Linked DNA regions of Homo sapiens. The protein of the gene in region 1 purifies or fractionates together with the protein of each later gene. This does not show direct contact. Each region holds a gene or a part of one and is shown on either strand. Other genes may lie near its edges.

The links.
Region 2: the proteins of NDFIP2 (region 1) and TMEM245 purify together in Homo sapiens (affinity purification with mass spectrometry; one large-scale study listed by BioGRID and IntAct). This does not show direct contact.
Region 3: the proteins of NDFIP2 (region 1) and NDUFAF1 purify together in Homo sapiens (affinity purification with mass spectrometry; one large-scale study listed by BioGRID and IntAct). This does not show direct contact.
Region 4: the proteins of NDFIP2 (region 1) and FAM8A1 purify together in Homo sapiens (affinity purification with mass spectrometry; 2 studies listed by BioGRID and IntAct, with this or other methods). This does not show direct contact.

The regions. Positions count from the first base shown.
Region 1 is NC_000013.11:79,517,024-79,524,765, forward strand, and holds part of NDFIP2 (NEDD4 family-interacting protein 2), read left to right. Parts: intron 1-3,786; coding exon 3,787-3,952; intron 3,953-7,742. UniProt on the Homo sapiens protein: Activates HECT domain-containing E3 ubiquitin-protein ligases, including ITCH, NEDD4, NEDD4L, SMURF2, WWP1 and WWP2, and consequently modulates the stability of their targets. As a result, may control many cellular processes.
Region 2 is NC_000009.12:109,033,634-109,041,375, forward strand, and holds part of TMEM245 (transmembrane protein 245), read right to left. Parts: intron 4,485-7,742; coding exon 4,384-4,484; intron 2,748-4,383; coding exon 2,573-2,747; intron 1-2,572.
Region 3 is NC_000015.10:41,388,170-41,395,233, reverse strand, and holds part of NDUFAF1 (complex I intermediate-associated protein 30, mitochondrial precursor), read left to right. Parts: intron 1-189; coding exon 190-375; intron 376-875; exon of another isoform or gene 876-1,129; intron 1,130-6,711; coding exon 6,712-6,786; intron 6,787-7,064. UniProt on the Homo sapiens protein: As part of the MCIA complex, involved in the assembly of the mitochondrial complex I.
Region 4 is NC_000006.12:17,600,621-17,608,362, forward strand, and holds part of FAM8A1 (protein FAM8A1), read left to right. Parts: coding exon 1-501; intron 502-1,969; coding exon 1,970-2,090; intron 2,091-4,285; coding exon 4,286-4,409; intron 4,410-5,253; coding exon 5,254-5,393; intron 5,394-7,574; coding exon 7,575-7,719; 3' UTR 7,720-7,742. UniProt on the Homo sapiens protein: Plays a role in the assembly of the HRD1 complex, a complex involved in the ubiquitin-proteasome-dependent process of ER-associated degradation (ERAD).

The DNA.
Region 1 (7,742 bases):
TCTTGTTATTAAAAATGCTCAGTATATATCTATAAAGACTAGCCACAAATGCTTTTAAGAGAGCTCTGTTGTCATTTTTTTTTCTTTAGACAAAAAACAATTTCGGTTCATTCACTATACAACTTTTCACCACCCTGGTTGATACATTAAAGACAGTTTTGTTTTCATGTGCTATATTGCCCACAGTTTTTCAGGAGGCTCATAAGTAGGAAGAGCAGGAATGATGGCTTTTGAGGTGATGTATAAATAGGGCACAGAGCTTAGGCATCACTGTATACAAGTAGGTCCCCTCCTCTCCTGTCTCCCCTCTCCTCCCTTTTTTGCTGTTTAGATGATTGTTAATGAATGTCAAATAGAACCATTGGAGAACATGATTAAGAAAAATTATTCTCAAGTAGAATTGTCTAATTTGATAAATATGACTTTATTTTAACCCTCGTGATGGATTTGTTTAAAAGGCAGTCAAAGTTGGTTAATTCACAGAGGCAATTTTATTGCCGGCAAAGATATCAAAATTACAGAATTTTATTTAAAGTAAATTGAAAGTTATATATGCTACAGTAGGCAGAGGTTGTTGACTGAGTTAGTGGGTTTTACTGTTGATGCATGGTAATATTCACATATTATAATTTTGTCAAAACCGTAGGTGTTAGCTAGGGCAGTTGAAATAAATTAGGGCATGTTTTATAGGCTCCAAAGCTTTATTTTGGAGCTTATATATAAAAGTGTTTGTAGTTATTCCTTTCATTTTAGTTATTTGAGTAAATTTTGACAGTTTTTGAAAGTAAGTTGGTCATTCTGGGGAGCACATTTATGTATTCAATGTAGTAAAGAGTGTTTTTTTTGAGAAACTGGAAGAGTGCTGTTTTGCATATAAGATTTTTCGTTTGTAAAGCTCGCTGTATCTGCATTTGCAGCTTTAATAAGAGATGTGGAAAAGTGGTTTTCCCTTTTTGACACCTTCACAATTAATTGTTTAGGTGATATTAACAAGTAGACATCTGTATTAACTTTTATTGGGCTTACCTTGCTGATCTAACATTTTTGGTCTTAAAATATTATCAGTTAAAGATAATTAAGTGAGGAATTCTCCTGGGTACCATGTAGTAGGAAGACATGGGAGACGGATGGTAATACCAAGTGCAACATGTCACTAGTCAAGAGGGTAGTCATTTAGTGCCTACTTGGAAAAGTGCTGCAAGAAATATAAACTTCATTAGGCTCATAATCATAAAATTCACTTACGATTATTTGGTTTTTGAATTCAATTTATGTGAATTGATCTCATTATGTAAATCTTAATGTTATGATGTTTGTGGAAAGAGTGGTCTTAGTAACTTCATAAATGATTTTAGGCATGGTTATGACAGTTTTGTTAAGTTATAATACATTCACTATCTCACAAAAATGTTTTGCTAGTGTGATCATTTACCAAGACATGGAAAAAGCAATGTGTAGTAAATTGACCTCTTGTTTTACTTTGCATTTACTTATTTATTTCAGAGATGAGTGACTACTGATTGGATTGTTAGAGAGTACCACATAATTTCTCTTTAAGGTGATGAAATAAACTAAATAAAAGGGAAGAAGTGGGAGAATAGTATTTGTTAAATCCTTCAGTGTGTTGGTTGTTATATTAGATGCTTTCCAAATATTATTTTACAAGCCTATGAGGATTTTGGCTGCATTCAGAGCTAATAGGTGAACACTAAGACATGGAGAAGATTTTATCAGAGGTCCTAAAAGGTAGAGCAAAAATTTACATGCTGATCTTTCTTTTTTCTTTCTTTCTTTTTTCTTTTTAAGACACTGTCTTACCCTGTCATCCAGGCTGGAGTGCAGTAGCGTGGTCACGGCTCACTGCAGCCTCATCCTCCTAGGCTCAAGTGATTCTCCCACCTCAGCCTCCTTAGTAACTGGGACTACAGTCACATGCCAGACTTGACCATTTTTTGTATTTTTTGGTAGAGATTGGGTTTCACCATATTGCCCAGGCTGGTCTTGAACACCTGAGCTCGAGCAGTCCGCTTCCCTCAGCCTCCCAAAGTGCTGGGATTACAGGTGCCAGCCACTGTGCCCAGTCCAACATGCTGTTCTTTCTAAATTCCAAAATTCATGTTCATTTTGCTACATCACATTCAAATTGGTATGTATACTAGCTTTGTGACAAAATTTATTTGGGAGATTATTTTTAACATTGAATTTCTTAGAGTAACAGGAATAAATTAAAATATGAAAATTAAATAATATGGAAAACTAGTAGTTTCTTTTGAAATAGAGATTCCAGTTTTAAAAGTATCTTAAAAATTTTTAATAAGACTTTTTGCCAAATATATTTAAGGATCAAAGTACTTCTTGATGAATCACTTTTTATCGTATTGATGCCTTTGACTCATCTTAGTTTGTCTGCATGTAGTTATTACCAATTCGTGAGGAATGGCCATTTCAAAGTTTACCATAAATGAAGTAAAACGTCTTCAGTCACACTGCTTGGCTTTAATTCCTTACTCTACTCTTTCTTACTGTTGTGACATATGGCAAGTTACTTTAGCTTCTGCACTTCCTGTTTGTTGTTTTCCTTTTATTGGTGATAATAACAGTCTCTGTCTCCTAGGATCTCCTAGGTTGTTGTGGAGATTCAGTTAAGTAATTCAAGATCTCAACATTTTATTAGCATTTATTAACTCTCAAGGAATTTGTTGAGACGAAGAGCATTTGCTAGAATTTTATATACACATCAACTTATTTTGCTTTAGTAATTTTTTTGTTGGTTTGTTTGTTTTTGAGACGGAGTCTCGCTCTGTCACTTTGACAATGTCAAGGCTGGAGTGCATTGGCGCAATTTTGGCTCATTGCAACCTCTGCCTCCCGGGTTCAAGCAATTCTCCTGCCTCAGCCACCCGAGTAGCTGGGATTACAGGTGTGCGACACCACACTCAGCTAATTTTTGTATTTTTAGTAGAGATAGGGCTTCACCATGTTGGCCAGGCTGGTCTCAAACTCCTGGCCTCAAGTGATCCACCCACCTTGGCCTCCCAATGTGCTGGTATTACAGGTGTGAGCCACTGTGCCCAGCCTTGCTTTAATAATTTTTTTTGTACTTGGGAAAACCTACTTAGCGTACTCCACATTTTTAGAATGTTTATCTGTTTTATTCCATTTCATTAATTCAGCTTTCATTTCTGATTATTCTAGATTCACACATTTTTTCAGGAGGCTCATAAGTAGGAAGAGATGGTAGTAGAGATGGTATTGTGGCTATGTTATTAGGATTTTTGCTTTTCTTTGTAGTATGTAATAACTCTACTGTTACAATTGCATACTTCCTCTTCCCCGTAGCACCAAACCTTCTCCTTCTACAGTCTCTCCGATTTCAATAAATGGCTTCAATAGGCCAGAAACCTTGGAGTCTTCTTTTGGTACCTGATTTTAAAATTACAGTAGGCCCCCTTATCCAAGGGATGTGGTAGACCTTTGATATCTACTTTAGGATCATATGAATTTGTATTTATTTTGAATCATGATATTTTCTTTGTAAATTCTTAATTTGACCTTCCTCTTTATTGTAAAGAAACTGAAAATTCTGAACTTCTTAATAACTAAGTCTTTACAAATTGTTTTTTAAAAACTTTGAAATACTAGTGTGATTTTGTATACTATCTAAAAATGCCATTTTCTTTGTGTTTGGCCAAAAAGCGATACTGTGTCTGAAATGATAAAATCAGCTTAAAATTTAAAAAATAATTAGCATTACATTAATGTTTTGTTTTTCTTTTGTTCTCTTAGCTTCTTAATGAAGAGGATAACTCAGAATCATCGGCTATAGAGCAGCCACCTACTTCAAACCCAGCACCGCAGATTGTGCAGGCTGCGTCTTCAGCACCAGCACTTGAAACTGACTCTTCCCCTCCACCATATAGTAGTATTACTGTGGAAGTACCTACAACTTCAGGTATGAAACATCTAGTAATGTTTTTATTAGTTCTTTTTTTTTTTTGACATTTTGGTTTTGTGTAATTATCATGTCTGTTAATGGGCTTATAAACATATATACACATGGATATTTATATATGTATATACATACTGTGTGCACATATAAATATACAGATGTATACACACATATATATGTGTGTATGTATATATGTGTACGTACTTATATAACCATAAAACAAGATGATGGTGAGTGTGAATGAGAATGTGGTATATGTGACTGTAGGTGAAGGGTGTACGTAGTGATATCCCATACATATGATAATTACTGAATACAAGGCAATAATTCCTGTTTGCTACTGTTCATCTTATTCAGGTCACTCTAAAGAACTAATCTATTTTTCTGGCTACAATTTTTATTTCCTAAGCAATGATTAATTATTCAGTTTGATCAGTTTTGTATACCAGTGTGATTTAGTATACTATCTGATGATTCTTTAATTTTATATGTGATTATAACTTCTCTAGTCTAATAATTTCTAAATAAATTCTAAATAACTTCTCTAAATATTTTATATACTCATTATGAAACATTTTCATTTTAAAAATCAGTTACTGAAAAATATTTTAACAGAAAAAATTTTTCACTAGAACTTTTCATCTTATTCTGTATTTAACATCATCTACTGCTCTCAAATTAATGCCAGCTTTCTCTGGTTAGCATTTTTGCATTTGGAATGTGTAAACTCAATATTTCTTCTACCAAATTCATTTACTTTTTTTGTGTAGTTACTGAAAATCATTTTTTCATGGTGTCCTCACTAATGAAGCTAATACATGCTTACTCCTTTTATTTGGTTTTCGTTTTGCTTTTTTTTTTTTTTTTTGAGACGGAGTCTTACTCTGTCGCCCAGGCTGGAGTGTGCAGTGGCCCAATCTCGGCTCACTGCAAGCTCTGCCTTCCAGGTTCACGCCATTCTCCTGCCTCAGCCTCCCAAGTAGCTGGGACTACAGGCGCCCACGACCACGCCTGGCTAATTTCATTTTTGTATTCTTAGTAGAGACAGGGTTTCACCATGTTAGCCAGGATGGTCTCTATCTCCTGACCTCGTGATCCACCTGCCTCAGCCTCCCAAAGTGCTGGGATTACAGGCGTGAGCCACCGTGCCTGGCCTACTCCTTTTATTTGTATAAAATGTTTATTTGATGATTATGCTTGCTCATTGCCCAGTTTTATGCACAGTTTTTATGTTGATAACAATTTTGTCTTTAGCTATAAGATTTAACAGCTGGTTTGATGCCTGTTAAAATTTATTATATGCTAAATAGTAATTCTTCAATATTTTACAAGTTTTCACAATATAATAATAAGACTTTGCTACCTTAGATTAAAAAAATTAATTTGATTATAATTTTGAAGAAAGAAAATGAGTTGTTTTCCTACTGATGTTTGTCTGAGTAATGAAAGATACTATGAATAATTTTAAGAGTGCAATTGTGATACCATTGCTATTGCTGTGTAACAAACTACCCAAAATATAATAGAGTAAAATATCAATCATTTATTACTGTTAATTCTTACTGTTCTGGGAGTGGACTGGACTGAACTATGCTCTTCTCTCCTAGAGTCTTATGTGACTGTTGTCTGATGGTGGCTGGGGTTGGAATTATCTCAAAAGCTTCTTTTTTCACAAGTTTGGTGGTTTATACTGGCTTCAGCTAGGACCACAGCTGGGGCTACTGGCCAAGACAGTTATATGTGGCTTCTTATTGTGGCTTACACTTCCTCAGTAGATGGTGGCTGGGTTCCAAGAACAAGCATTCTGAGAGAAAGTCAGATGGAAGCTCTATCACCTGTTATGATACTGTCTCAAATGTCACATGGTATCCCTTATGCCATATTTTGTTGTTAGAAATGAGTCACTAAGTTTAGTCCTTATTCAAGAGGAGAGGAATTCATCTCTACTTCTTGATGAGAGGAGTTTTAAAGAACTTGAAGACTAACTTTTAAAACTCTCACAACTGCATACTTACCCTTCCCCGTAGCACCAAACCTTCTCCTTCTACAGTCTCTCCTATTTCAATAAATGGCTTCAGTAGGCCAGAAACCTTGGAGTCTTCTTTTGGTACCTGATTTTAAAATTACAGCAAGCCCCCTTATCCAAGGGAGATGTGTTCCCAGAACACCAGTGGATGCCTAGAGCTACAGCTAGCACTGAACCCTATAAATACTGTGTTTTTTCTATACATACTGTTGTTTGTTTGTTTTTGTTTTTGTTTTTTTAAGATGGAGTTTCATTCTTGTTGCCCAGGCTGGAGTGCAATGGCGTGATCTTGGCTCACTGCAACCTTCACCTCCTGGGTTCAAGCGATTCTCCTGCCTCAGCCTCCCAAGTAGCTGGGATTACAGGCATGTGCCACCACACCTGGCGAATTTTGTATTTTTAGTAGAGATGGCATTTCACCATGTTGGTCAGGCTGGTCTCGAACTCCTGACCTAGGGTGATCTGCCCACCTCGGCCTCCCAAAGTGCCGGGATTACAGGCATGAGCCACTGCGCCCAGCCCATACTGTGTTTTTTTAATATATACATACTTATGATAAAGTTTAATGCATAAATTAGGCACAGTAAGAGATTAACAACAACTAATAATAAACTAGAACAGTTATGGCAATACTGTAATAAAAGTTATGTGAATGTAGTCCCTCTTTCTCTTGGAATACCCACTCTTCTTCATGTGATGATATGAGATGATAAAATGCTTATATGATGAGATGAAGTGAGGTGAATGACATAGGCATTGTGATGTAGTGTTAAGGCTACTATTGATCTTCTGATGATATGTCAGAAGGGGGATTGTCTACTTCAGGTGATCCTGGACTGCAAAACCATCACGATGTCGATGAGTATGGATCCTTGATAGTTGGAGGTTATTTTGCTGAAACCTTTTGGAAGAACATTGTAACTGGAAGTTGTTGTCTCTTTTTTATTAACTCATTGAAGTATTGCTGCAGAGGTTGTAGTGCTTCAGTGATCATATGGGTGACTTTGATACTGTGCCCCATTAAGGATCATATTCTATAATTTTGACATTTAATGTCCGTGCCATTTGAAACACTTCAGCAGATTTTGGTAATGGCCACGTTACTGATTCTGCTTCATTTTCTTCTTCATCTTCCTCTTCCTCTGTAGATGACTCTAATTCTTCCATATCCTCATTATTAACACTTCTTGATGGCCATCAGTATGCCCTTCTACTTCTTCATCAAGCATATTGGCAAATCCTTCTCCACCAACTTGTCTTGCTGTGTGATTTTCCTGGCTTCTCTGCTGATCCCCAAGAAGCCTTTAAAATCATTCATAACTTTACTCCAAACATTCTTCAGGGAGACATCTACAGTTTCTGGTTTTAATTCATCAGTTGCAGCTTTGATGAATGTTACTGCATCAGCAATAGTGATTTCCAGCACTGTATTATGTCATGTTAGGGGCTGCATCGATTGCTGATCAAATGTGATTAAATACTAGGCAAGTGTATGTGGCCTTGACTGACCAGATGATGCACTGGTCAAGGGACTGAAGCAATGAGGTTATATTTGCAGGTCAAAGTAAAACCTTGACATTTTCATTTTCATAGCAAACAGATTCAGGATGGTCAGCTGCATTGTCTATTATTAATAGGACTTTAAATTTCAACTGTTTTCTTCCAAGTAGTTTTTCACTTGGGAGATGAAGCATTGGTGGAACCATTCCATAAACAAGATAGCTGTCACCCATACTTTCTAATTATGTTGCCAGAATTTGGGCAGAT
Region 2 (7,742 bases), on another chromosome or scaffold:
CATACAACTGAACACTGACTGCAATAATATTGAGATGCAACAATATTGAGATGCAACAATTGTTTTTCCTATGGATGACATCTGCCTCTTTTTATAGCTCCAGGAATGAAAGAATAAAGCCAGCAATGTTAACAGATATTTTATACCCATTACAGGTGCCTGCCTATGATGGGTTAATGTTGGCTTGGGACTGGTTAGGAGTCACCTGTTAAGTTAACCTCCATCAAGGATAATTAAGTGAGCACAATTTAGCATGTAATTCAGTTAATTATGCTTTTATATGACGACAGCAACAATGAGAGCATCCCTGTTACTCATAGGTCAGACTTTTGGCAACCTCCTAAAATATAGTTTTTAACATAGGTGATGATAAAAGGCCTCCTGAGGAAAATATCTGTCACAAAGCCCAAGATTTCTATTTCACAGGAGAATCACAAATGCCCTCCAGCTTATTACAGTATCACTTATGTAAGCGGAATGAAATAAAACAGAACACAGTAGCATAGCACATTGATAATGACAAGAAAGGACCACTGACATCAGAAGGACTGGGAAATAAGTCACATTCTGTTTGTTTCTAGTTTTAAACATAGATGAGAAGAACAATTCAGTGAGGGGCAAATAACTAAATATCCTGGAAGGATGTTCTATATTACAGCTAAATCAAAGTAAGACTTGTGGAGAACCAGTCTTCAGGAAACCAATAAATTATATTCATAATGTGTTTGTCTTTCTCATTCCAAAAAAATGATTTAGGGCAGTATTCCATGTTTGCTAAGTAAACTTCTTCCCTAAACAACACATTCAAGGAAAACTATCAAAAATGCTTAAAGCTTTTTATTCCGCTCCATCACCCAGGCTGGAATGCAGTGCCGCAATCACAGCTTACTGCAGTCTTGACCTCCCAGACTCAAGTGATCTTCCTACCTCAGCCTCCTGAGTAGCTGGGACTACAGGCATGTGCCACCACACCAAACTAATCTTTATATTTTTGTGGAGAACGGGTTTCACCATGTTTCCCCGGCTGGTCTTGAGCTCCTGGGCTCAAGTGATCCACCCACCTCGGCCTCTCAAAGTGGTAGGATTACAGGCTTGAGCCACTATGCTCAGCCTTAAAGCTTTTTTTAAAAAAAATAAAAACGTGTGGGAGTTTATGAATAAAAGCTTAACCTATTAAAAAATAAAACAATTTATGCCAAACCTTTCATTTCCCAATAACAACGTTTAAAGACAGTATTTTAGGCCGGGCATCGTGGCTCATGCCTGTAATCCCAGCAGTTTGGGAGGCCAAGGCAGGCGGATCACTTGAGGTCAGGAGTTCAAGATCAGCCTGATCAACATGGTGAAATCCCATCTCTAGTAAAAATACAAAAATTAGCCGGGTGTGGTGGTGCACGCCTGTAATCCCAGCTACTCAGGAGGCTGAGGCAGGAGAATGGCTTGAACCTGGGAGGCGAAGGTTGCAGTGAGGCGAGATTGCACCACTGCACTCCAGCCTGGGTGATAGAGGGAGACTCTGTCTCAAAAAAAAAAAAAAAAAAAAAAAAAGACAGTGTTTCTTTAATTCCAGCTGTAAACCTTAATATAAAATTTACAGCAAAGTTTAAAGAAATAAAAGCACTTAAGTATTAATCATACTTATTCCTGCTCAAATGTCAACTGTGACACACTAGTTAACCACACTATGATGTTCAGCTTTTTAATTTTCTCTCTCAAGTTTTAATGTGACTGAGAACTGGCTTGATATACTTAATGCAATTTCTAAAAGAGATGTCAAAACCTATAAAAACAGACATTTATTTATTGTATTATATGGCTAAAGTGTTGATTCTGACTTAGATTTAACCTGTATTTATCATAGAACCATTCCAATTATATCTTTAGAGAGCTCTGCTTGCCAGAAATTAACTTGCTGAGATTTGGTTTCACATGGATATCCTCAGACATACAATCTAACAACATTTTCTCCAAAACCAAAGAAGAGATAAAAATAATCATTAACTGTTCACTGTACTTAAAATATTTGATGTACATCTGGTCATAATTCTTTTCTAGGTTAAATGTCACTAAATCAAGAGAAAATTATTCACAATTTGGTTTTAACCCAGGACATCATATATATTATAAATATTACATATGTAATAAGAAAATATTGGCTGGGCATGGTGGTTCATTCCCGTAATCCTAGTGCCTTGGGAAGTTCAAGGCAGGAGGACTGCTTGAGCCTAGGAGTTCAAGGTTCAAGGCTGCCATGAGCCATGACTGCACCCTGCACTCTAGCAGTCTGAGTGAAAGAGATATTGTCTCAAAAAAAAAAAAAAAAAAAAGTTGCTCTGGAACTCTGGGGCAACAACAACCAAAAAAAAAAAAAAAAACCCCAAAATATCATGCCTTGTAAACAATACTATTTTCAATGAAAATTTCATTTGTGGGAACACAAAAGGCTATTTCACTGAAAATTCCTACTACCAGTTCTTTTGTATACCCCCAGGAGAAAAAAATCCTCCTTTAAAAAAAAAAAAACGGAAATGCCTGGATGATTCACTAATAAGAAATTCTGTGGCTTACTTACCCTGATATGTCAGAGTAGATTGCAGTATCTACAAAGTATGTTGGCAAGAGATGAAAAATCAACAGTAAAATGGCCTTGCATCCTAACCCTTGTGTCAGCCACAGGTCAAGAACTGCAGGTACTGCTGCCCAGTATGTCCCCAGGAATGGCACTGCTCCAAGGATTGCTGCTAATGCTGAAAAAAGAGTAAAAGAAAAACAACTTAACATCATCAGCAAAACACTAACAAAGCAAAAGAATCTAAGCAGTAGCTCCTCCTCAACAACTTCCAACAAAACAAGTTAAATACTCACAAACTCAAATATTAGGGAAATGATATGCCCTATCTAACTGAATTTTCTAGCTAAGTAAAGGCTCAATATCTTAAAATGTGATACTAAAAATCTTTCTAAGTGTGTGTCTTATTTATGGATCTCTTCTTAAGCAATAAAATTCAAGGGTTCTGTAGTTGCTACTATCAATCAATAGTTAATATACGGTCCTATAAATACACCTACAGAACATGTGTCAAAACTTGTACTGAGTCCAAAGCCCAATCAGAAATTAGTTTCTAAACCTCAGCATAATAAAAATAAACAGAAAAAATCCTGAGTTGAAGGACCCTGCTTCAAGGTCATTCCCTTCCAGAGCAGTATGTTCAAGCACTCTTCCTCCATCTGGCTTCTCTCCAAGTTAAGAGTAAAGCAAATGTAGTTTCTAGTTCTGGTCCTACCAGAAGCCAGGTACATGACCTTGGAAAACTGGTCTCTCATCTATATGACAAGTCTACCATCCCGCCTCACAGGGTGCTTGCAGGTCAGAGGGTAGGTTTGTGGACATCACAGTAGAGAAGAACGTGAATGAACTTGACAATGTAGAAGGAAGCACAGACAAATAGGGAAAGGGGGGGATGTGGTAGAGGCAAATGTGGAAGGCAGAGATATTTAGGAAAACAAGCAGCCATAGAAATAAAGGAAGGAAAAGTAGAAGAAGCACCACAACAGATCTTAAGAGGTATGGAGGCAGCTTATGTGCCCTCAGAAGCATTCATCTTGCCCTGGGATGTAATCCCTCATGGACAAAGCTATTTTGACAACAAGTTGCTCCCTGCCAATCAGTTCAATTCAAACGTTACTGAGAGCCAATTATGTCCTAGGTGTTATGCTAAGTGCTAGAACATTCATTCATTGAACAAACATGTAGGGCAACTGATACGGGTTTGGATCTGTGTCCCCACCAAAATCCCATGTCAAATTGTAATCCCCAATGTTGGAGGTAAAACCTGGTGAGAGGTGACTGGATCATGGCGGGTGGATTTCACCCCTAGGTGCTGTTCTCATGATAGTGAATGAATGAGTTATCGTGAGATCTGGTTGTTTAAAACTGTGGTAGCACCTCTCCCCTCTCTTCCTCCTGCTCCAGCCATGTAAGACATGCCTGCTTCCCCCTTACTTTCCACCACTATTATAAGTTTCCTGAGGCCTCCCCCAAAGCAGGAGCCACTATGCTTCTTGTACAGCCTGCAGAACCGTGAGCCAATTAAACCTCTTCTTTATAAATTACCTAATCTCAGGTATTTCTTTATAGCAGTGAGAGAACAGACTAATACAGCAATTTTTTCTATGTGCTGGGTATGGTTCCAGCTGCTGGGGATACAGCAATAAACAAACACATTACAAATCATATTTCTGTTCCTAATGTGGACTAGATTCGATCTCAAGCCAAAAAATTTAGTTTTTTAAACTTGAGGAAGTAGACATTTCCTAGATGTATGTAAAATGGCTTAACTTTCCTTAAATAGCGAATAGTGGAAGGTACAATATGGTTGTTACCTGATGGTATGAAGACAATATTGATGCCAAACATAGTATGAGTCAGCCAGGTATACAATCCATAGAAGCCAGCCATTTTGAGGGAAGCATCAAACACCCCTCTGGAATGCCCAAAGATAAAAAGAAAGAGTAAATAAACAGTGTCATATCGTGATTCAGAAAAATCACGTGACCACTTGATTCCAAATCATGTAATAGCTTCAGTTTTTCTGCTGGCCTGAGAATGCTATTTTCATTTTATTTCAAAGAAACATAAACACCTTACTTTAAATACATTTACTAAGTTATTCTTTATGTAATATGAAATATGTTTTATTTGGAAATATGTTTACTATTCCTTAAATTTCTGATGAAAAAATAACTGAAACACCTTAAAATACCCTATTCTCTGAAATAATTCATCAACTTTTCACTCTGAAGCAGATATTTCACCACCAAAACAAATGGAAAGAAAATTAAGCGTGAATAACATGTTTCCAAGAATACAGTTTAAACTCTAAGAAACCCAGGCTGTGGCCAGTCCTCCCCTTTTGGAAAGAGCCAATAAGGGATAGTGTAACTTGTATTTCACCATCTTTCTTTGCCTTAACAAAATCTTCCTATGTTTCTTAAACTATGTAACTAAGCCTACAAAGTAACATCTCTTACAAATGCTATCAAAGAAAGTAGGTCATTGGGAGAGAATTTGTGGGAAAAAAAATATTCCTAACTCCAAAGTAAAATCAGAGAGGAAAATACAAGAGAGATAAAAACAGACACATATATTTGGTGACTAATATAGGAATTCAATACATGAAAATCTGCAATGTCAGGTGCTCTGTGTTTTTCAGTTGGAAGATTAGTAAGGCAGTGCAGCACTATAAGGAGGGGAAATAAGGAACTGTTCAGAGAGCACAAAGGTGGCAACCCGTAAGTAATCTCAAGGCAGCACAAAATCATAAAAACCTGGACTCTATGGGGTGGTGCAGAGGGGTGCAGGGAAAGCACCTTCATATGGTCACTACAGAAGAAAAGCTGTAGTTGAAAAAGAAGACGTTAGCGGCAAACGTGACCTTGTACATGCAAAAAGAAACACCAAGCTTTTCTAAAGCATCCCAAGAGGTATACTGTTAGGAGCAAAGTGAAGCCCTGTAATCTAGTGATTTAGTCATTTAGTAGTGTTCTGGGACATGGATCCAGGGGCAGAGTGGCTCCCCAATTGTAAAACCTGCTTTGTCATCCGGACCAATGGCTTTCACTAGAGAACGTCTTAAAGGAGCCATATGACTCTGCAACAAGAACCCAGAATAAAGTGGTATCAAAAATACCAAAAGGAAGCGAAAGACCCCAAAGAAAATACCAAGGATCTGCTCAACAACTAAACAGAGAGGACAGAGCAAAAAGAAAACAACAGAGCTTCAGGTTTTAAACCTGAAGGGGAAAGAATAGCAGTGTCTCAAAGTCATGGAGAAGGCCAGAATGGAAGAGGCATGCAAGAAAAGGGCAGTTTGTTTAGTATGGGCAACAGGAACTCAAAAAGGATGATGAAAATACCCTAGAGGTAGCTGAAATAAGAGACAAGGCTTAATAGAAAATTCAGAACAAGACATCTGAGACGCACCAGAATAATTATAAAAGAGTACAGGACATCTTAAAAGGGCAAGTGGAGAGAAAATAGGGCAACAGGTTGTGTTTTCATAAAGGACCTAAAGACAAAGAAATACCAGCCAGAGAGGTAATGAAATCATTTCCGTAGTAGGAGGAAAATCACTAGAGTGCAGTATTCCCGGAGACCAAGGGAGAAGGTAGGTTTTGAGGGGGAGGGAATAATGACATAATCGACCACAGAGAAAAAGAAAGGAAAAAAGTATAGAATTTGTCTAGAACTAGGGAGGTCAATGAGGAAAAGATAGAGATGTGATCCTTTCTTTAACCTTATGTTATTTAAAAAATTTAAGCCAAAAATAAGTTGACATCAAAGGTGCAACAGAATACTGCAACTCAATCACCCCTCTGGGTGGCAAGTAACCAAGGCTCAATCCAGTAAGGACCACGTGGAGAAGACAGCAGTCTTCTTTCTTTCACTGCTGAGAATATTGGTTGCTGGTAATGTTCTCAAGGCAACTTTTAAATGCACTGTATATTGTTTGCAGTTACTAAACATATTCATGTAACCTAGTGAGGGATGAAAAGACAATATATTCCCCTCTACCTCATTACTTGTGATCTGGCACACAAGTTTTATAAATAAAACAGCAGAGAAAAATCCTCTTACAATTTACCAGAAAACAGAATTTAACTCCCTCAAATTCCTAGCAACTTTTTCTTCTTTTTTATATCAGCTTTATTAAACTATGATTTACAAATAATAAAACTCACCAATTTGAAGCATTCAATTCAGTAATGTGCACAAATATATACATTCTATAACCATCATTACAATCAAGATGTAGAATATTTCCATCACCCCAAAAAGTTCCCTCATGCCCTTCTATTGTCAAACCCTCCCTAAACTCTGGCCTCTGATGGCCACTAGATATGCTGTCACTATAATTCTGCCTTTTCTAGAATTTCACGTAAACACAACCATACATTATATAGCTTTGTATTAAATTGTGGCAAAATATCCATGGCACAATATTTAGCATCTGAATCATTTTGAGTGTGCAGTTCAATAGTGCTAAGTACATTCACGTTGTCGTGTAGCTTTTGGTGTTTCTTTCACCTAGCATAATGCTTTTGAGCTTCACCAACATTGTTGAGTATATCAGTAGTTGGTTCCTTTTTTACTACTGAGTAGTATTCCATTATGTAGATCTACTACAACTTGCTTATCCATTCACCAGCTGATGGGCATTTGAGGTGTTTCCAGTTTGGGGGTATTATGAATAATGCTGCTATGAACATTTGTGTACAAGTCTTTGTGGACATATGCTTTCATTTCTCGTCTGTAAATACCTAGGAGTGGAGATACTGGGTCATACGGTATCTATTTAACTTTATAACTAATATTAGCTTTAATCTCTCAATTCCGAAAAAACTAATAGTCCACGGACACCAACCCAGAAGCCACTGCCTCCTACCTCACCACATATCTCCTCAAGGTATGAGGTTAAACCTCACAGTTTCATGTGAGTGGATGCTGGCAGGAAGAACAATTCAACCCATGAAAAGCTAAATGACAATGCATCTGAAGCACCTAGTAACTGACCTAGTGCACAGTAGATGCTCAATAAGCAGTGGCTATTAGTAGAAAATGTGGTGTGTGCACAAGGAAATACTATTCAGCCCCCCCAAAAGAAGGAAATCCTGTCATTTGCGACAACGTAGATGATCCTGGAGGACATTATGGTAAGTTAAATAAGCCAGGCACAGCACAG
Region 3 (7,064 bases), on another chromosome or scaffold:
CTTAGAAACATATAACTATGTCAGTATTTTGTGCTAAAATAATAATCACTGGGTTTATGTGCCTTCTTATGGGGCAGAAAGTCAGAAAAATGGTTAGTGCATCCTGTTGATGATGCTGACTTGGTGATGACTCACATTTTGCTAATAATGGAGAATGAGGTACAATGAACTTTACTTTCAATATCTTAGGGTGCTTTTGAGAGGAAGATGTCTTACGATTGGTCCCAGTTCAATACTCTGTATCTCCGTGTACGTGGGGATGGTCGGCCTTGGATGGTGAATATCAAGGAGGACACAGATTTCTTCCAGAGGACGAATCAGATGTATAGTTACTTCATGTTCACCCGCGGGGGACCCTACTGGCAGGAGGTCAAGGTAACAGCATAAATCTTCATTGTTTATAAAAATGAGGTCTTGGCTGGGTGAGGTGGCTCACGCCTATAATCCCAGCAATTTGGGAGGCCGAGGTGGGTGGATCACCTGAGGTCAGGAGTTCGAGACCAGGTTGGCCAACATGGTGAAACCTAGTCTCTGATCGTGCCATTGTACTCCAGCCTGGGCAACAGAGTGAGATGAGACTCTGTCTCAAAAAAAAAAAAAAAAAAAAAAAAAAGTCTTGGAGATGATTGTTACATTGTAGTTTCTTTTTTGTTACTAATCTTTCTTGGAAGGTGGGGGTGGGTGGGTAGAAGAAAGGTTAAGAGACATAAATGAATTTTGTTTCATTAATATAAATGTTAACATACTAACTAGTGAATATTTTTGATATGGATGTGGCCAGGTCCATGCTAAGTCACAGGCACATCTCTGCTCTGTGTCCAAATAGATGGGGTTTGTTTGTTTTTTAGAAGTTTCTGCCATTTCATGTCTTCCAGGCAACTCTGCTAAAGTTGGTGTCCTAGGCCTGCGTGGTGGCTCACACCTGTAATCCCAGCACTTTGGGAGGCCAAGGCGGACGGATCACTTGAGGTTGGGAGTTCGACACCAGCCTGACCAACATGGAGAAACCCTGTTGTCTCTACTAAAAAAAATACAAAATTAGCTGGGCGTGGTGGCGCATGCCTGTAATCCCAGCTACTCGGGAGGCTAAGGCAGGATAATTGCTTGAACCCAGGAGGCGGAGGTTTCGGTGAGCCGAGATCGTGTCATTGCACTCCAGCCTGGGCAACAAGAGCCAAACTTTGTCTCAAAAAAAAAAAAAAAAAAAAAAAAAAGTAGTGTCCTAGGCCAGGCGTGGTGGCTCATGTCTGTAATCCCAGCACTTTGGGAGGCCAAGGTGGGTAAATCACCTGAGATCAGGAGTTTGAGACCAGCCTGGCTAACATGGCAAAACCCCATCTCTACTAAAAATACAAGAATTAGAGGCCAGGCGCGGTGGCTCATGCCTGTAATCCCAGCACTTTGGGAGGCCGAGGTGGGCAGATCACGAGGTCAAGAGATCGAGACCATCCTGGCCAACATGGTGAAACTCTGTCTCTACTAAAAATAAAAAAATTAGTTGGGTGTGGTGGCGTCGTCCCAGCTACTCAGAAGGCTGAGGCAGGAGAATCGCTTGAACCTGGGAGGCAGAGGTGGCAGTGAGCCGAGATGGGCCACTGCTCTCCAGCCTGGCGACAGAGTGAGACTCCATCTCAAAAAAAAAAAGGCCGGCCGCGGTGGCTTACGCCTGTAATCCCAGCACTTTGGGAGGCTGAGGCGGGTGGATCACGAGGTCAGGAGATGATGGAGACCATTCTGGCTAACACAGTGAAACCCCGTCTCTACTAAAAAAATACAAAAAAAATTAGCCGGGCTTGGTGGCAGGTGCCTGTAGTCCCAGCTACTCAGGAGGCTGAGGCAGGAGAATGGCGTGAACCCGGGAGGCAGAGCTTGCAGATCGTGCCACTGCACTCCAGGCTGGGCGGGAGACTTCGTCTCAAAAAAAAAAAAAAAAAAAAAAAAATTAGCCGGGCATGGTGGTGTGTGCCTGTAATCCCAGCTACTAGGGGGGCTGAGGCAGGAGGATTGCTTGAACTTGGGAGGTGGAGGTTGCAGTAAGCTGAGACCGTGCCACTGCACTCCAGCCTGGGCAACAGAGCAAGACTCCGTCTCAAAAAAAAAAAAAAAAAAAAACTCAACAAGAAAGTCCCCATTTTGCTCATGTCATATACTTGAGGGTCATCCTGAATTCTTCTCCTTTGCCCCACATCCAGTCTATTAGCGAGTCCTGTCACCTCTGCTTCCAAAATACACTCAGCAGCTGACCATTTCTAGCCATCTCTTCTACTCCCACCCTGGTCCAGGTGTTTGGATTATTGCAGCAGCTTCATTATTGATTTCCCTGTTTGTCTTCTTGCCCCACTAAAATCCTGGCTCCACAGCAGCCAGAGTTATCTTTCTGAAGCATAGTTCAGATGACATCATTTACATGCTTGTAAGCATGTAAATGTACCTCCTAAGCATGTAAGCTGTATTAGTCTGTTCTCGTGCTGCTGCTATGAAGAAATACCTGAGACTAGGTAATTAATAAAGGAAAGAGGTTTAATTGACTCACAGTTCTGCAGGGCTGGGGAGGCCTTAGGTAACTTATAAAATCATGGCAGAAGGGGAAGTAAACACATCCTCCTTCACATGGTGGCAGGAAAGAGAATGAGAGCCGAATGAAGGGGTAATCTCCTTATAAAACCATCAGATCTTGTGAGAACTCACTGTCACTAGAACAGTATGGGGGAAACCACACCCATGGTTCAGTTAACTTCACCTGGTCCCTCCCTTGACACATGGGGATTACTACAATTCAAGATGAGATTTTGGGTGGGGAGACAGCCAAACCATATCAGGACCCTTCAGTGGTTTCCCATTACAATTCGAATAAAGTCCAGGCTGGGCTAGGTGGCTCATGCTTTTAATCCCAGCACTTTGGGAGGCTGAGATGGGCAGATCACTTGAGGTCAGGAGTTTGAGACCAGCCTGGTCTACATGGTGAAATCTTGTGTCTACTAAAAATACAAAAAATTAGCAGCAGGTGGTGGCACACGCCTGTAGTCCCAGCTCCTCAGGAGGCTGAGGCAGGAGAATCGCTTGAACCTGAGAAGTGGAAGTTGCAGTGAGCCAAGATCGCGCCACTGTACTCCACCCTGGGTGACAGAGTAAGACTCCATCTCAAGAAAAAAAAAAAAAAAAAAAAAGAATAAAGTCCAAACTCCTGCACATGGCCTATGGGCCTACAATATCGGACCCCTGTCTTCATCTTCCATCTCTCCTCCTGTCTTCATCTTCCATCTCTCCTCCTACCTCCTTCCTCCACACCAGCCCCTTTTCTGTCAGATTTAACAACCTCATTTCCATCTCAGAGCTTTGCACTTAGTGTTGCTCTGCTGTAATGCTCTGCCCCCATGTCTTCACCTGCTTTCTCTTTCCTGTCATTCACCTCTCGGCTCAAAAGTTGCCTCAGAGAGGCCTTTCCTGATTCCTGTAACTAAAGTTGGACCCTCTAATCCAGTTATTTCAACACCACCATCCTATAACTTTCTTCATAGAACTTATCACTAACTAAAATTACTTTGTTCATTCATTCATCTGTTTATTGTCACTCTACTGCCTTCCCTGGAACATAAATTATATAAATTCTTTTTTTTTTTTTTTTTAAGATGGAGTCTCACTCTTACTGCCCAGGCTGGAGTGCAGTGGTGTGATTCCAGCTTACGGCAACCTTTGCCTTCCAGGTTCAAGAGATCCTCCTGCTGGGACTACAGGCGTGTACCACAACGCCCGGCTAATTTTTGTATTTTTAGGAGAGATGGGGTTTCATTCACCAAGTTGGCCAGGCTGGTTTCGAACTCCTGACATCAAGTGATCCACCCGACTCGCCTCCCAAGGTATTGGGATTATAGGCGTTTGAGCCACCACACCTGGCCCTAAATTCTGTAAATTCTGTGAGAGCAGAGATCTTGCTTATATTGTTCCTACCAGTTTCCCCTGTACCTAGAATTTTGTCCTAGTGCCTAGCACAAAATAAGCACTCAATACATACATATATATGTAGTAATACAGATATATAACACAAATTATATATACTTGTATTTAAGTAATATATATATAATGAATTATTATACAAAATAACTACTTCATTATAAAAACAATTTGGGAAGTACAGAAAAAAATCTTGTACTACCACTATCCAGTGATAAAATACTATTTTTATTTTATTTTATTTTTATTTTTGTAAGACAGAGTCTCGCACTGTCGCCCAGGCTGGACTGCAGTGGCGGGATCTCGGCTCACTGCAAGCTCTGCCTTCCAGGTTCACACCATTCTGCCTCAGCCTCCCGAGTAGCTGGGACTGCAGGTGCCCACCACCACGCCCAGCTAATTTTTTGTATTTTTAGTAGAGACAGGGTTTCACCGTGTTAGCCAGGATGGTCTTGAACTCCTGGCCTCATGATCCGCCCACCTCGGCCTCCCAAAGTGCTGGGATTACAGGCATGAGCCACCATACCCAGCAGATAAAATACTATTTTTTTTTTTTTTGAGACAGAGTCTGGCTCTGTTGCCCATGCTGGAGTGCAGTGGCACGATCTCTGCTCACTGCAAGCTCCGCCTCCCGGGTTCACGCCATTCTCCTGCCTCAGCCTCCTGAGTAGCTGGGACTACAGGCACCTGCCACTACACCTGGCTAATTTTTTGTATTTTTAGTAGAGACGGGGTTTCGCCGTGTTAGCCAGAATGGTCTTGATCTCCTGACCTCGTGATCCGCCTGCCTTGGCCTCCCAAAGTGCTGGGATTACAGGCGTGAGCCACCGCGCCTGGCACAAAAATACTATTTTTAATATGTATCTTCTACACTTTTCTAGTCACACTTTTCCCTTCCAGTGGTGTTTTATAACATATATACAGTATTTTCACTGAACTATTGTTTACAACTTTCTCTTCAAATATATTTCTACATCATTTTTAATGTCTGCATGATATTATATAAGTAGACAACAATTTTGGCTGGGTCCAGTGGCTCACATCTGTAATCCTAGCACTTTGGGAGGCTAAGGCAGTGAATCATTTGAAGCTAGGAGTCTAAGACAAGCCTGAGCAACATGGCAAAACCCTGTCTCTACAAAAATACAAAAATTAGCCCAGTGTGGTGGCATGTGCCTTTAGTCCCACCTACTCAGGAGGCTGAGGTGGGAGGATTGCTTGAGCCTGGGAGGTCAAGGCTGCAGTGAGCTGAGATCACCCTACTGCATGCACTTCAGCCTGGGTGACAGAGTAAGACCCTGTCTCAAAAAAAAAAATTTTTTTTTCTTAACTTGTTCTTCATTATGTACATGTAGATTTAGATTGTTTTCAGAGTTTTCTACTGTCGGAACAAACTCTGAGGTAAACATCCTTAACTATTTTCATAGGCTATATTCCTAGAGATAAAATTACTGGAATAACTATTAATATGTATAATTCATTTTTATTTATGTTCATTAAAATTTATTTACTTATTTGAGACAGGGTCTCTCTTCTGTTGTCCATGCTGGAGTGCAGCATGGGCTCGCTGTAGCCCCAACCTCCCAGCCTCAGGTGATCCTCCCACCTTAGCCTCCTGAATAGCCAGGACTACAAGGATGCACCACCATGGCTGGATAAGTTTTTTGTTTTTTTACTAGAGTCTTGGTTTCACCGTGTTTCCCAGGCTGGTCTTGAACTCCTGGGCTCAGTTGATCCTATTGTGTTGGCCTCCCAAAGTGCTGGGATTACAGGCATGCACAACCAGGCCCAGCCATTTTCTTCCTTTGTTAAACTCAAAATATAAATAAAATTAGCATACTCTGTACCTGTTTTTTGTGTTTTTAAAATTTAGGAATATATCCTGGAGAGCTTCTGTATAATTATTTAGGCAGGGTGTGGTGGTTCATACCTGTAGGCCAAGGTTGGCAGATTACTTGAGCTCAGGAGTTTAAGACCAGCCTGGCTAACATGGTGAAACACCGTCTCTACCAAAAAAAAAAAAAAAAAAAAAATTAGCCGGGTGTGGTGGTGTGCGCCTATAGTCCCAGCTACTCAGGAAGCTGAGGTGGGAGAATCGCTTGAACCTGGGAGGTGGAAGTTGCAGTGAGCCAAGATGGCACCACTGCACTCCAGCCTGGGTAACAGAGTGAGACCCTATCTCAAAACAAAACACAAACAATTAAAGCCAGATATAGTTTTAAAAGATCGTGCTTAATAATAAGTAAATTACATAGAGAAGAAATATGAAAATAAAGTTGATGAATAAAAAGGCACACTTGAAAGTTCAAGAGTAGAAGGAATAGGACATTTCTTTTAGTTCAGTTTCTAATGTAGGAAGGAAGGGAAACGTTAAAATTCTTTTTTCTTTTTTTTCTGAGATAGAATCTAGCTCTATCGCCCAGGCTGAAGTGCAGTGGTGTGATCTTGGCTTACTGCAACCTCTACCTCCCGGGTTCAGGCAACAAAGTGAGACCCCATTCTCCACAGAAAGAAAAAAAAAAAAAAGCTGTGTTTAGGATACTAGTCTTTTTTCCATAAATGTTACAAATATTTTTTTCATAGTTAACCCTTTATCGTTTGGCCTGAGTTATATCTTTGATCCAAATGGCTAGCCATTTGTCATAATACATATATGACATAATTTTAGAATAAATGTAAACTCATTTTATCGTTACAATTACATGCAGATGCCTCAATTGCTTACATTTCAGTTATGAAGTAAATGGTTTCTTCTTTCAGATTCCTTTTTCCAAATTTTTCTTCTCTAATCGAGGAAGAATCCGGGATGTTCAGCATGAGCTTCCGCTTGATAAGGTAACATATTCCTGTATTTTTCACTCAGAACTGTATCATTTTTAATGAATCGGAACTCTGGGGAGACTGAGTTCATTTGAGAAGGCTGGCAGATGAATATTTCTTCTCAGGGCCACTGCTCTTATACCCAGCCAGAGGCTGACTTAGACCTCTCCTATGAACCATACCCCCATCCTGAAGGAATTTTAGAAGGATCATTTTTTAGCATGCCTACATTTTACTTTAGCTATTTTCCCCCCTCCCTTCTCTCCTAATTTAGCTTTAAAATAAGAGTTTAT
Region 4 (7,742 bases), on another chromosome or scaffold:
GCGAGCTCAGGAAGCGCGGGGAGGCGGCCTCCGGCTCCGGTGCAGAGCTGCAGGAGCAGGCGGGCTGCGAGGCGCCCGAAGCCGCGGCGCCACGAGAGAGACCAGCTCGGCTGAGCGCCCGCGAGTACTCCCGGCAAGTGCACGAGTGGCTGTGGCAGTCCTACTGCGGCTACCTCACCTGGCACAGCGGCCTGGCCGCCTTCCCAGCCTACTGCAGCCCCCAGCCCTCCCCGCAGAGCTTCCCTTCGGGCGGCGCTGCAGTCCCCCAGGCCGCGGCGCCGCCGCCCCCGCAGCTGGGCTATTACAACCCCTTCTACTTCCTGAGCCCCGGGGCCGCGGGGCCTGACCCGCGGACAGCTGCCGGCATCAGCACCCCTGCTCCAGTCGCGGGCCTGGGACCCCGGGCTCCTCACGTGCAGGCGTCGGTCCGGGCCACTCCAGTGACGAGGGTAGGATCCGCAGCCCCTTCGCGAAGCCCGAGCGAGACCGGGCGACAGGCAGGTGAGAAGCGCGAGGTGGAGGCTGGGCGGAGTAGAAGGGTTTTCGGGGGCCTGTGGGGTAGAGCTGGCACGCTTTTTAGACCTGTAACTGCTGCTTCTACTCTGATTGACTATCCTGCCCGTTCAGTTCACTAGCTATCGTTTGTCCAGGCCCTAAATTCCCAAAATGTACAAGGAGGCAATACAGTTTCTTCTTCCTTTAGACCTGGCACTCCAAATTGACTCCCTTACTCATGGGACTAGTTGTTTATTCGTGAAAAGAAATTGCTCTTCAAACCATCCTCTTCCTTTGGTTTTCACGCTCTGCAGTGAGGGCCAAAGCTAAATTCGCAAATGGCAAACCCACTTTTGGAGGGGCTCGACTGGTAATGCTGAAAATTATTCAGACATTGGCTACTTAGGACAGTGGAACTGAACGGATATAAAAGGAGATCGACATGGATACAAGTGGAGTTAGGAAGTTTTGATTGGGTCAAAGCTTCACTTCATTTGATCAATATCTTGTATATTGTGTAATTGTTTTTGCTTCTGTGTGTGAACTAGAATATTTTGAATTAGTTACACTTCTTAGTTTACTATTTAAACTATTAGACTTTTAGTTTATTTTAGTTAGCCACAGATAGATGGGACAAGAACTAGTTGATGCCTCTGATCCCAGTCAGAATTTAGGATGACAGATTGATACTCACTGGGTTTATTTTAAAGAAAGCAAAACAAACTAAAAAACGGGTGGGGGGGGATTACAGGGATTTACTTTATACTAATTGCCAATATTTAACCTTGATTTGTACTAAAAAATGTTTAATTTTGTGTGACTTAGATGTGATCACCTGGATTCTCCTCATTAGAATTCCTAGTGAAATGTAGTGGGTACCCTAATCAAATTTATCTGTGAAATCAGTTTTCTAGGGGGAAAGTGGGGAGGGTGGGGACAAGGTCTGCTTCTATCGCCCAGCCTGGATAGTGCAGTGGCGATCTTGGCTCCCTGCAGCCTCCGCCTCCCAGGTTCAAGCCGTCCTGCCACCTCAGCTTCCCTAGTAGCTGGGACTAAAGGCATGCGCCACCACGCCCGGCTAATTTTTGTATTTTTTGTTGAGACGGGGTTTCGCCATGTTGGCCAGGGCCAGACTGGTCTCGAACTCCTGGCCTCAAGCAATCTGCCCGCCTCGGCCTCCTAAAGTGCTGGGATTACAGACGTGAGTCACTGCACCTGGCCGTGTGAAATCAATTTTTAAACGTTAAGGTGATGAAAGCAAACTTTAAGCTCAGTAAATAGTGGATTCTCTGTTACTCTATTTTAGTAACATGGATTCTTGGTGGAATCAATATCAATAGTTGCTGCACGGTTATAAATATTTTTTATTAAGTTGTACCTTGACTTTCTTTAGCAATTCATTACATGGCTTGTGTTCCAAGGCTTATGTGAAATGATTCGTTTTTCCTAACTTTTTTTTTTTTTTAATTTACAGGCAGAGAATATGTTATTCCATCCTTGGCCCACAGATTTATGGCAGAGATGGTGGATTTCTTTATTCTCTTCTTTATAAAAGCAACCATTGTCTTAAGCATTATGCACCTCAGTGGGATAAAGTAAGTTGAGGACATTTGCAGAAGGGTTTTAATTTCTACTGTTTAATGATCTTGTTTTATTACATTCTGTTTGTCTACACGTGACTATATGGATAATGGGCTTGTCAGTGTCATGATTTCTTTATAAGAGCTTTGTTAGATTTATTGTTTTCTTGTTGATTTTAAGAAATAACTAGAAAGGAAAAAAAATAGCTTACTGAATTCTATAAGATGTGTGGGAATCTCACCTATCAAAAATAGGTAAAAAGAGCCTCCAAACCTGCTTTGATTTTATTCACCTATTCTTTTAGGCCAGGAACTAATTTACCTCTCACTATCCTGTTCCCTCTTGCTATCTTGTGGAGTCTCTAAAGACAAAGGTATAAAGAGCTTTTGGTAGGTGAATTAATAATCAACTAGATGGCATTTCCAAATGGGATTGCACATACTGTGGGGCAAGTCCCAAGTGAACTTCAAAGTGAGACGTTTATTTGAGTAATCCTTCCAGATTAACAATAATCATAATAGCAGTTACCACTTCCTGAGTACTTTCTATATGCCATGTATTGAGCTTGCTCACTTCTTTATGTGGATTCTTATTTAATCTTAATACCAAGATGAGGTGTAGAGATTAATACCACCATTTTATAGAGTTTGAAATTTGGGTTTATGAAAAGTTGAGCACAGAACCTAAAATGTTACAAAGGTAGTAAGTGACAGAGTCAAGATACAAGCCTGTGCAGTCAAATTTCAGGGTCCTTGCCAGAAACCTGTTACTGTGATTCCTCCCTGTCCCTCCCTCTCACTCCACTCCACATCCAGTGAAATACCAACTCCTTTATGTTCAATTTTCTGAATAGCTTTCAACCCCAGACCTCCTCACTGCCAGATCATTTTTCTTTTTTTGAGACAGAGTCTTGCTCTGTCACCCAGGCTGGAGTGCAGTAGTACAATTATGGCTCACTGCAGCCTTGATCTCCTGTGCCCAAGTGACACTCCCACCTCAGCCTCACAAGGAGCTGGGACCACAGGCATGCTCCACCATGCCTAGCTAATTAAAAAAAAAAATTGTTTTTTGTAGAGATGGGGTCTCCCTATGTTGCCCAGGCTGGTCTCAAACTCCTGGGCTCAAATGATCCTCCTGCCTTAGCTTCCCAAAGTGCTGAGATTACAAGCATGAGCCACCACACCTGGCCCATTTTTTATCATCATTGCTTCTCCCTACTCCGATTACTGTCGTCTCTTGCTTGGATTATAGCAGAAGCCTTCTAGTGGTAACTCAGTCTCCTGTTTTATCTCAATCCAGTCTCTGATATAAAACCAAAGTGATCATAAATCCTGGTTCTGTTCCTTTCCTACCTTAAAACCCTTCAATGGTTTCTCTTTTTAAAATGTTTATTGTTTTTTTAGAGATGGGGTCTGTGTTGCCCAGGTTGCTTTCAAAATCCTAGGCTCAGGCGATCCTCCCACCTCAGCCTCCCAAAGTGCTGGGATTACATGCGTGAGCCACCATGCTCAGCCCCTTCAATGGTTTCTCTTTACCAGCAGGATAAAGTCTGAATTTCATCATGTGGTTTATACTCAGGAGGCTGTCTCAACCTCCCAAGTAGGTGGGACTGCAGGTGCATACCACCACACCCTGCCTTTATTTCTTAATCACTGCCACCTCTCACATTTAGTATATGAGCCACACCAAACTGCTTACAGCTTCTATCATATTCTCTCTTTCTCCAAGACATTCTCTCCTGCTGTTCCCTCTTTCTGGAACGTTATTTCCTCTTCTTAGTCTGGCTAACTTCTCTTCATCCTTCAGAGCCTCATCTAACTGTCTTTTCTGGGAAACCTTCACAAGGTTAAGTGTATCTGGTGTATGTTTCCATAGTATCCTAGGTTCCCCATCACAGCACTCATCCCACTTTATTATTGCTATTTATTTATTGTTCTGTTTTCTTTGCTAGGTTAGACCCTCCACGAAAGCAGGGACCGTGTAAATTCATTCACCCTTATTTCCCCCGTGCTAGTACAGTGTCTGCTCATGATAATGCTGCTTATTTGTTGAATAAACTAATGAATGCTTTATGATACTAGATGGTTGGGAATCTAAAGATTAGTTTAGAATTTCAATTAAAATGTATGACTTGCACTAATGAAAAAAAAGTCAGTGCTACTGTTCTGGTAACTAATTATTTATAACCCCAAACTATTATTTTGTGTAGGGATATCTCTAAGTTTGCTATGCATTATATAATAGAAGAAATAGATGAAGACACATCAATGGAAGACTTGCAGAAAATGATGGTTGTGGCACTTATATACAGATTATTAGTTTGTTTCTATGAGGTAAGCTACTGACTTCAGCAAGAATTAATATTTAACAATCTAATTTTATGTTTTTACATTTATTTTTTTGAGACAGAGTCTCGCTCTGTCACCCAGGCTGGAGTGCAGTGGTGTGATCTTGGCTCACTGCAACCTCTGCCTCCTGAGTTCAAGTGATTCTCCTGTCTCAGCCTCCTGAGTAGGTGGGACTACAGGTGCATACCACCACACCTGGCTAATTTTTGTATTTTTAGTAGAGACAGGGTTTTGCCATGTAGGCCAGGCTGGTCTCAAACTCCTGGCCTCAGTGATCTGCCCACCTTGGCCTCCCAAAGTGCTGGGATTACAGGCATGAGCCACTGCACCTAGCCAACAATCTAATTTTAGATTATCAGCCCAAGACGAAAAAGTAATCGAAATTTATAATTATTCATGTCTTTTCCACATGTCTACTTTTCTGTTTTTTTTCCCAAATTTTAACTAATCATTAAGTAAAAACTTTTGGAAGAGAGACATTTTACAATTTCTTTGTAATATTTTTCAGTCTTAGAAACTCAAATAAAATTTCACTTATAGATTGTGGTCCAAAAATATACTTGTAAATTGCAATGTAGTTTTCTGCAGAAGCAGCTTACTAGAAAGTATAGTAGTCATAGAGAAATATTACAGGAGACAGACATCTTGTGGTATTGGACATGTTAGAGACCTACAGAAATGCATAAAGTTAAATGGTTAACTTTTGAGTATTCTATGCAATTCTTTCAACTTGAAAAATTTAAAACATGAAATAATATGGTGGGAAAAGTTTATCTTTAAAATTGGTATAGTTGAGCCAGTAATTTTTAAATCATCCTTCTTTCCTTAGATAATTTGCATTTGGGGAGCAGGTGGAGCTACCCCAGGGAAGTTCCTGCTGGGGCTTCGAGTTGTGACATGTGATACATCAGTGCTTATTGCACCAAGTCGGGTTTTAGTGATTCCTTCCTCAAATGTTAGCATTACAACGTAAGTCCTTTTCTTAGCTTAATCTACTACATACTTAATGAAAATAATGTGTTTTAGAATATTGGGGTTTTTTTCTTCATAGTAGATAGGCTTATATTTATTAAGTTAAAACAAAGTTTGAATATTTATTTCAGTTGTGTTACATGATTGTAGACCTCTTTTACAGTACACATTTTCAAGATGATTTTTTTTTTTTTTTTTTTGTGAGACGGAGTCTCACTCTGTTGCCCAGGCTGGAGTGCAGTGGCACAGTCTCGGCTCACTGCAGGCTCCGCCTCCCAGGTTCACGCCATTCTCCTGCCTCAGCCTCCCGAGTAGGTGGGACTACAGGTGCCCGCCACCACGCCCGGCTAATTTTTTGTATTTTTAGTAGGGACGGGGTTTCACCGTGTTAACCAGGATGGTCTTGATCTCCTGACCTCATGATCCACCCGCCTCCGCCTCTCAAAGTGTTGGGATTACAGACGTGAGCCACCATGCCCTGCCTCAAGATGATCATTTTATGAATTATAAGTCACAATACGAGAGGATGATTTGGGTGTTGATGGTGTATTAGTGCTCCACAATCAGCTTTATTATTCTTTGGACCTGTGGATGTTAGGTCAGGTACTAGTCTGCCTTGAGTCTCCATTTGGCCATGCCTGTCATTATTCCATCTTGAATAGGCAGCAGAGTTTTGACAGCTATGCATTCGTGCATCCTTCTCCTGCTGTTAGGTGAGAGCTTGTAATACTGCCAGTATTCAAGGTTAGCTGTTGGCATCTAGCGCTGGGGGAAGGTACAACCAGTGATAATGGAAACTGTGGAGGTCAGTGGCTGGTAGTCAGTTGAGCCAAACAAGGTATTGGCTGCAATTTTTGCCAGAATGATTCAGAGCTGGATTGTTACATCAAGAAATATAAACAAGTGATTCTAGAAACCTTGGTTTTGCCATCTTCAAATTTTTCTTAAAATTTGGTAGTTATAGCCGGGCACAGTGGCTCACGCCTGTAATCCCAGCACTTTGTGAGGCTGAGGTGGGCAGATCACGAGGTCAGGAGATCGAGACCATCCTGGCTAACATGGTGAAACCCCGTCTCTACTAAAAATACAAAAAATTAGCCGGGCGTGGTGGCGGGCCCTGTAGTCCCAGCTACTCAGGAGGCTGAGGCAGGAGAATGGCATGAACCCGGGAGGCAGAGCTTGCAGTGAGCTGAGATTGCACCACTGCACTCCAACCTGGGCGACAGAGCAAGACTCCATCTCAAAAAAAAAAAAAAACAAAACAAAACTGGTAGTTATAAACCTACCTACTTCTTTTAATAAGAGTCAGTAATGGCTAATGTTTATTGAGTACTTTTTATATACCTGCACTGTTAATAACACTGCATATGTATTAATTTAATGCTAACAACCTCATAAGATAGAGACTATTGATCTATATCTATAGTATCATAAGATACTATAGGTAGTCTCTATCTATATACTATAGGTAGTATCTATATACTATAGGTAGTATCTATATACTATCTATAGTATCATAAGATAGATACTATTGTTCCCTTTTTGCAGATGTGGAATACAACTAGTAATTGGTAGACGATGGATCTGAATTTAACTAGTCTGGATTCAGAACCCACACTCCTAGCCACTGTACTTTTCTGCAGCCCTTCAGTGCACTAAAAGGCAGAAATCTAACATAAGTAGGATAATTCTCCATCCTGAGTGATTGTTGAAAGCTTTTAAAAGCTTTGCTTAATCACTGGATCCCACAAAGGAAAATGCTGATTAAAGAACACACAGTACTTTAAAATGCATGTTTTTTCTATAAGGTAGACAAATGGGACTACAGTAAGCATACTCAGAAAGTACTCAGAATTAATGTTCATTTCTTCTGAGAAAATACTAGAAAGCTCTGTAAACCATTAATTCAATATTCTGAGACATGTTTATTACTGCTTTTTATGTTGTTGAAGTCTTATTAGAAATAGCCCAGGTGGTTTGATCATGATACAGTGCTACTTGAAAATATATCAAAGGTAAAAATTCTCTCAACTATACCTTGAATGTCTTTTTCCCTGTAGACTTCTGTAGAGAAGTACAATTGTGTTTTAAATGTCTATTTTGAACTTGATGGGATACCATTAATCTATATGTGGTTTGATGTGTAACTTACCTGATATTTTTGTTTTAACTTTTTAGGTCCACTATCCGAGCTTTGATCAAGAATTTTTCAATTGCTTCTTTTTTCCCTGCTTTCATCACACTGCTGTTTTTTCAGCATAATCGAACAGCTTATGACATTGTAGCAGGAACCATTGTGGTAAAAAGAAATGGGGTCAGATGATGCCCCCCAAAACCCTGATTTCC